Homo sapiens: one gene and its partner. The protein of the gene in region 1 purifies or fractionates together with the protein of each later gene. This does not show direct contact. Each region holds a gene or a part of one and is shown in the gene's direction. Other genes may lie near its edges. The genes, in order: CHN2 and ELMO2.

What was found.
Region 2: the proteins of CHN2 (region 1) and ELMO2 purify together in Homo sapiens (affinity purification with mass spectrometry, with the first as the bait; one large-scale study listed by BioGRID). This does not show direct contact.

What each region holds. Positions count from the first base shown.
Region 1 is NC_000007.14:29,509,244-29,513,066, forward strand, and holds part of CHN2 (beta-chimaerin), read left to right. Parts: intron 1-57; coding exon 58-163; intron 164-941; exon of another isoform or gene 942-3,320; coding exon 3,321-3,492; 3' UTR 3,493-3,823.
Region 2 is NC_000020.11:46,382,433-46,386,255, reverse strand, and holds part of ELMO2 (engulfment and cell motility protein 2), read left to right. Parts: coding exon 1-132; intron 133-2,761; coding exon 2,762-2,840; intron 2,841-3,823. UniProt on the Homo sapiens protein: Involved in cytoskeletal rearrangements required for phagocytosis of apoptotic cells and cell motility. Acts in association with DOCK1 and CRK. Was initially proposed to be required in complex with DOCK1 to activate Rac Rho small GTPases.

The sequences.
Region 1 (3,823 bases):
TCTGAAAACTTGAATGCCACACTCTGAACTAATACCCATCATGCGTGAACTTCACAGAAATCTCCAATGCAGATGAGAGGCTGGAAGCCGTCCATGAAGTGCTGATGCTGCTGCCTCCTGCCCACTATGAAACCCTCCGGTACCTAATGATCCACCTCAAAAAGTAAGCTCATGTCTCGTGCACAAAGCCTGCTCTGCTCCTAGAGCGGTTAATGCATGAGGAAAAGTGGACGGCATTCCTCCCCAGCCATAACTGCTGGAGTTTCACTGTGCCAGGAACCACTCCAGGCACTTTCAGTGTATCATCCCTATGAAAGGGGCGCCACTGTGATGGCTCACGCCTGTAATCCCAGCACTTTGGGAGGCCGAGGTGGGCGGATCATGAGGTCAGGAGATTGAGACCATCCTGGCTAACACGGTGAAACCCTGTCTCTACTAAAAATACAAAAAAATTAGCCGGGCGTGGTGGCAGCCGCCTGTAGTCCCAGCCACTTGGGAGGCTGAGGCAGGAGAATGGTGTGAACCCAGGAGGCAGAGCTGGCAGTGAGCCGAGATCGTGCCACTGCACTCCAGCCTGGGCAACAGAGCGAGACTCCATCTCAAAAAAAAAAAAAAAAGAAAAAGAAAGGGGTGCCATTAGGGGCCTTGTGTCACTTGTGAGATTGCTGATGCCTGGGGAGGTTACACAGCTGATTTGAAGAGGTGAAGGCAGGATCCCAGGCAGGCTGATGTACAGCCTTTAACTACTCTGCCTCCGTGTCTGCATCTTCATCTGACACAAGCCCTGTACTCTGTGTCCTGTTCATCCCCCTGTTGCTTGCCCCTTTCCAGGCTCCTGAGACTGCCTGCCTCCTGGGAGAGCACATTCCCAGCCTGGTCTCTTATTTTTCTGGATGTGTGAGTTCTCTCTCATTGAGTAACAAATTGCTCCCGAAACTTAGTGGCTTAAAACTGTAAACATTTATTATCTCATAGTTTCTAAGGGTCAGGAATCCAGGTGTGACTCAGCTGGCTGCCTCCAGTTCAAGGTCTGTAATGAGGCTGCAGTCTTATCTGAAGGCTTGATGGGTCTGTAATCCCAGCTACTTGGGAGGCTGAGACAGGAGAATTGCTTGAACCCGGGAGACGAAGGCTGCAGTGAGCGAAGATGGCACCACTGTACTCCATCCTGGGCAACAGAATGAGACGCTGTCTCAAGAACAAAAAAATTCACTCCTGAAGGCTTGATGGTGGTAGCATCCATCTCCAAGCCCACTCACATGGTTGTTGGCAGGATTCAGTTCCTTAAAGGCTGTTGGACTGAAGGCCTCACTCCCTCACCAGCAGTTTGCTGGAGGCAACCCTCAGTTCCTTGCCATGTGCATTTCTCCATAGGCAGCTCACAAAAAGCCAACAGGCTTCTCTCAGAACAAAAAAGCAAGAGCACCCAATATGAGAGACAGTCTTTTTGTAAGCTAATCTCAGAAGTGACATCCTATTGCTTTTACCGTGTTTTATCTGTTAGAAGCAAATCAAGTCCATCCCATACTTTAGGGGAAGGGATGCAGGGTATGAATTCCAGGAGGCATGGATCGCTGAGGTCCATCTCAGAGAGTACCTGCCACACACACAGCTGTCTGCGTGAGTGTGTGGGAGACAGAGATGGAGACGTCTGGATGTTTATGGGACACTAGAACCTCTGGTGACACTATTCTCCCTAAACCTTGTGTCTCTCTCTTTCACTGCACATGTGTAATGAGGTCGATGAATTGGTGTTATAACATTGGAGGGATCAGGGCACATCTGTGTGCCTCTGTGTTTTTGAAAGATACTTGGCAGCAGCCCATTCTTTGATAAAAATAAAATGAACCGAAAATTGTCTACATTGACCAGTTTACAGATCTACTTAGTATGTGAAAAGAAGCAAACGGAGGACTGTATAAACAGTAGGTATTGAGATTTTTATTTTTCTACCTTATAAGACATACAAGAAGACATACAATATTGTTGCTCAGATTCAGGGTGATGGTAACATTTAGCTCAGAATATTCCCATTCTGATTAATTTACTGAATTTAGGAGTGCAAGTAATTTTTAGATAATAAACTATGGGTATCACATCTGGCTTTCAATTAGCTGTAAAATACTTATTGTGATCAATATCCAGTTGTTACAGTTTGGAAGGCAAAGTACCACTACCAGAAAAATGCTGACACCTTTCAGCTGAACCTTAAATGCCAATAATACTGTATCTTTATCATAGTGGGTTTGCCAGCCATCTTGTTTAGTCAGGCATAGTGCCTGACTTAAGAGGAAACTGTGGGCACTTTGATGGTGAGAAACGTCCTCTTTCCAACCTTCTTCTTAGGCTTTGTGGCATGTACATGACACAAACTGGGTTGACCTTAAAATAATACTCAATGGCTAATCCTAATGAGTTATAAGGAAATAGAAAGGGATGGCTTTTTATGCACAACCTAAACACATTTTAATTATATTTTCCTAAACACATTTTAATTATATTTTGCTCATTTTTGGAGAACCCATTCCCTTTTACATCTATTATGAACATTCTAAAACTTAAAGTTGTGAAAACAAAACTCTGGGAGATAGATAGATTGTAATTTTATTCCATGAGGAAGGTGTTAAACCAGCTTTGCAGTTTGAATTTTATTCTTAAAGGCTCTGCAGTTCTTACCTGGATGTCGAAATGATTTTTAATTTCAACTGCTGTAGACCTCATCCTGTGGGAACTAGAAATAATGTCCAACTGCCGTCCAGTCTGGCGACATTCCAGCCGTTCCCCCACCCCACGATAACGGCCTGACTCTTCCTCAATTCATGACAGCCCATTCTACACATAACCTTTCTCCTCTGGCACCGGTCCTCCCAGCAGAGAGGGATCCTGCCCTTCCCTTCCCACTCTCCAGCATACAGACCAGCAGGAAGCCACAAGAGGGAAAAAAAAAACGCCTTCTGTATAAGGCCTATGAAAGGACCATGGGCCAGCCTCAGAATCTGCTGCCCCTACAAACCAGTATTCCTCAAATGATAGTTCCACATTTACTTAATAAGGAGGACTAATTTTCTAATTTTAAAAATTGTGTTCCTGCCAGATTCACATAAGTAATTCATTTCCACCGGCGAAGGCAATGTCAACAATTTAAAACGAAAAATCAGTAAATTACCCTTCCAAAAATACCTTTCTGCTGTTCTGATTCCCAATCTTTTTCTTGCAATTTCCTGAACCAGAGATGTTATCGGGACTTACATACATAATCAATACATAAAATCAATCCTCAAGTCTCCATAATGTCTCTGTTCTATATGTTTGTTTTGCAGGGTTACTATGAATGAAAAAGACAATTTCATGAATGCAGAAAATCTGGGGATCGTGTTTGGGCCCACTCTGATGAGGCCCCCTGAGGACAGCACCCTGACCACCCTGCATGATATGCGGTACCAAAAGCTGATTGTGCAGATTTTAATAGAAAACGAAGACGTTTTATTCTAATCCATCAGGGAAATGAGCTGAATGGCCCCAGCACCATCCAAGTTGACACAGCTAAAGGAATAAAAACATTTCTTACCACTTGATTTGTTTTCCAAGCAAGTGCTAGAATTTCCTGGACTGCAGAGGATCGCTGAGTGGGGTACTGTGTCTCATAGACATGCGCCACCTCCACGTGAGAACAAGGGTGAAGGTGAGGGAAGCCCCTCACCTTGGGTCTTTTGCTGTGCCTCCTATGTATGTCTGGTTTGCTGGAAGAGTGATTAATACATCTTTAATTTATTAAAAAACAATGTAGACCTTTAAACTTCAGTCTTATTGGTAATAAAAGGGA
Region 2 (3,823 bases), on another chromosome or scaffold:
GCCCATGGTGGACGTGTCAATCCTTCAGAGGTCCCTGGCCATCCTGGAGAGCATGGTCTTGAACAGCCAGAGTCTGTACCAGAAGATAGCCGAGGAAATCACCGTGGGACAGCTCATCTCACACCTCCAGGTGTGAGTAAAAAACCCTACACCTCCCTCCCTTCACTTGTCTGTCCTCTTTTCTCCTCTTATTTTAAGTCTTCCAATCCTACTCTCCTTTGCTTATATTCCAAGCTGTTGGTTGGCTTCTTCATTCATCACCTCTTCCACACTCCTGCCAGAATTTCTCCCATCATTCAGACTTGATCATGTCATGCTCCTGCCCAAAATCCTCTGTAACTCTCTCTGCCCCTTAGGTTAAAATGAAGATTTTCCCAGTCTTCCCATACCAGGGTGGTACCAGGCAAAATTAGATGCTTTCTCACATGGGCCCAGTAGTCTCTGTACCTATGATAATTATATAAAATACTGGATTTTTATTATCTGTTGCCCATTTTGAACATAGAGCCCCCTTGAAACAGAGACCAATCATTGTTGTATCCCCTGTTTTGATTTAAGTAGAGGCTCAATTAGTGCTTGTTGAATGAATGCTCACTGAACCGACGATGCACTGTGGGTGATTTGTAAGAAATATCACACAGGTGTGAGTTTGGAATATCAGTTCAAATCCAGGCTCTTCTGCATACTAGGTCTCTGCCATCAGCAAGTAACCTAGTCTCTTCTGGCCTCAGTTTCTTCATCTCTAGAATAGGTTAATCACCTTCACCTCTCACACTGTGAGGATCAAAGGAGATTTTAAAAAGGTCCAGCATAGAGGCCAACCTGGGTTAGGTATTCAGTAAATTCAGGGGCTTTTTTCCTTTGTTTGTTTGTTAAGACTCTTATCACATCCTAAAACATTTTACCAGATACTGAGACCATATGACAAATGAACCCATTGGAGCAATGTTTCTCCCGTCTCCGCTGTTTTTACCTCACTTCCAACCAACCTACACCATGTAAGGAAGCTGGACTTTGCAAAACAGTGGTGGCACTCCTGTTGATTCTCTTCTGACTGTTGTTCACTTCTGTTTTTTAGACATTGTCAGAATGTTGCCAGAATCCCCCACCAGTTCGAGGGGAAGTCATAGCTCCCAGATTTGGGAGTTTATAGTGGCCCTGTCTTCACTCAGCTATGCTCCCAACTTGTTTTTCCCCACTAATCCAAGTAAAAAGAAAGCACAATTATTTCTTTGCAACTCTGATTTCTCCTTGTCACTTTTAAGGAATTTTCAGCCTCAGCTTTCTTTGCTTTTCTTTTTTGAGACAGGGTCTCACTCTGCCGTCCAAGCTGGAGCGCAGTGGCATGATCATAACTCACTGCAGGCTCAAGCGATCCTCCCCATCTCAGCCTCCCGAGTAGCTGGAATCACAGGCACACTCCACAACACCTGGCTAGTTTTTTTTTTTTTTTTATTTTTGTAGAGACAGGGTCTCGCTGTGTTGTCCAGGCTGGTCTCAAACTGTTGGGCTCAAGCAGTCCTCCCACCCCAGCCTCCTGAGTAGCTGGGACTACAGGTGTGAGTCACCATGCCTGGTCTAGCCTCAGCTTTCATACCCAGCGAGCCACCAAGGTTGATTAAGGTGAGAGGGACATTATAAACTCCAGATAGAGAATTCTGATTTTCCTGTAACCTCACATCTACTTCTCTGGTTTTTTTTTTTGTCTCTGAATTCAGAGTGGCCCCAGTTGCCTCCCTAGGGATGATAGGGGAACATGGCATTTCATAGGAGCCAATACTTTCAGCCCACAGCTGTCACCAGAACTTATATGCTTTCCTTTTTGGGCTGAGGGATACTTAGTGCCCTCTGTTAGACTCCCTGGGTACCATGTGACTAACCAGGAAGCCCATCAGACCCTCTGGAAAGACAGCCACAGAATGCACCCAAGACATGGCAGGTGGAGATGTCAAGTACCAGGATTGTAAGATTCCAGAGAATGATTGTAGTTATTTTGTTTGTTCATAATAAAATAAGTTTATAGTCAAAGACTTTAAAAATACAGAAAAACGCAAAATTATTTGCCCATTATCTCACCTCCAGACATACCCACTGTTAAACATTAAATTGAATGTCCCTTCAGTATTTTTATGCATATTTTTAACAAAATCGGGATCTCATTATATATACTATGTGTACCTTGATTTTTTTTAACTGAATAATACACCTTGAACATTTCTCCATGTCAAAGATTTTTCTAAAAGGGTAGTTCTAAGTCTTTTTTGCAACCTAGACACCTTTGAAAATCTGGTAACAAGTATATACTCTCACCAGTTTGGAAAAAATACCACTTAGTTGGCAAACTACATAGAATAATTTCTGTATCATTCCTGGGGTTCACAAATACTCTAAGCTCATCCCTGAATCCCAGGTTAAGAATCTTTACCCTAAAACATGACTTTTAATAACTACTTAAGATTCTCATATGTATAAATGTTGGCTAATGTGACCATTTGGATTACTTTCCATTCTTTTTTAAGTAGTACTTTAATGAAACGCCTTGTCAGTAAATCTTGCATAGCTCTCTGATTACTGTCTTAGGATAAATTCCTATTAGTGAAATTGCTGGGTCAAGAGCATGCCCACTTTGAATGCTTTTGAGACTGAGCTCCAGATCATTATTTGCTTATAATCTGTGAGTGATTGTTTTAAACCATTTCTAAGCATCATCTTGCTGTTCAGTCTTCTAATCTCCCTCTCTCTTCTTTCTCCATTGACACAGCTCCAACCAGGAGATTCAGACCTACGCCATTGCACTGATTAATGCACTTTTTCTGAAGGCTCCTGAGGACAAACGACAGGTCTGTGGCTGCCTTTTCACATTTTTCATCTGGGCTCTTCTGAGATAATTCTCACCCCATGCACTCTTTGCTATGCAGAGAGCACAAATCCAGCAATTTTCCCAAGAGTTCTTCCTCTTAGCTGTCTGGTCTGGAGCCCAGGAGGGTGGCTTTGCTAAGGAAGACCCAGGGAAGACCTATGAGGGGAAACCAGCTGGGTCTTAGATGAGAGCAGGGCCCTTCAAACTTTTTCCTCTAAAGGGCCAGAGAATAAATATGTTTGACTTTATGGGCCATATGGTCTATGTGATAGCTACTCAACCTTGCCATTGTAGCCAAAAGCAGCCTCGGCCAGTAGGTAAATGAATGGGTATGGCTGTCTTCCAATAAAATCTTATTTACAAAAACAGGCAACAGGCCTAATATGGCCATAGTTTGCCAACTCCTGGGTTACAGAATCAAGAATAAGGAAGAGGAGACCCTGTGGCTACCCTGAGTCCAAGGAGTCCAATATGAATGGGATTTCACACTAAATCTTAGGTTTAAAGGTTCTCTGATGGAGATTCTAAACATCTTCCTTCCCCTGTTCATTAACTGTGACATTATGCAGATAGCTCTGCCTCTGTGAACCTTAGTTTCCTCACCTGTCACATGGGAGCAACAACATCTGCCTTGTTTACCTCACAAGGATGTCTGAGGAAAAACAAGATCCCTGTTTCACAAATAAGGAAACTAAGAATCAGCTGGGTGGTGGAACAAACACTGACCTAAGAGCCGAGGGGCCTGGGACTAAGTATTCTCCCTGCTGCTGGCTGGACAAGTGTTTGTAACCTCTTTTTGGGTCTCAGTTTCTCTTTCTGTAAAATGAAAGGGCCAGTTTAAATGATCTCTGACAGCCCTTCCAATACTAACATTCTAGATTTCTCTGAGAAAAGCCCAAGTGGTGTTAAAAGTAAGACATTTTAGTTCTCTGACAATCTCATGGGCTCAGTAAGATGAAATTC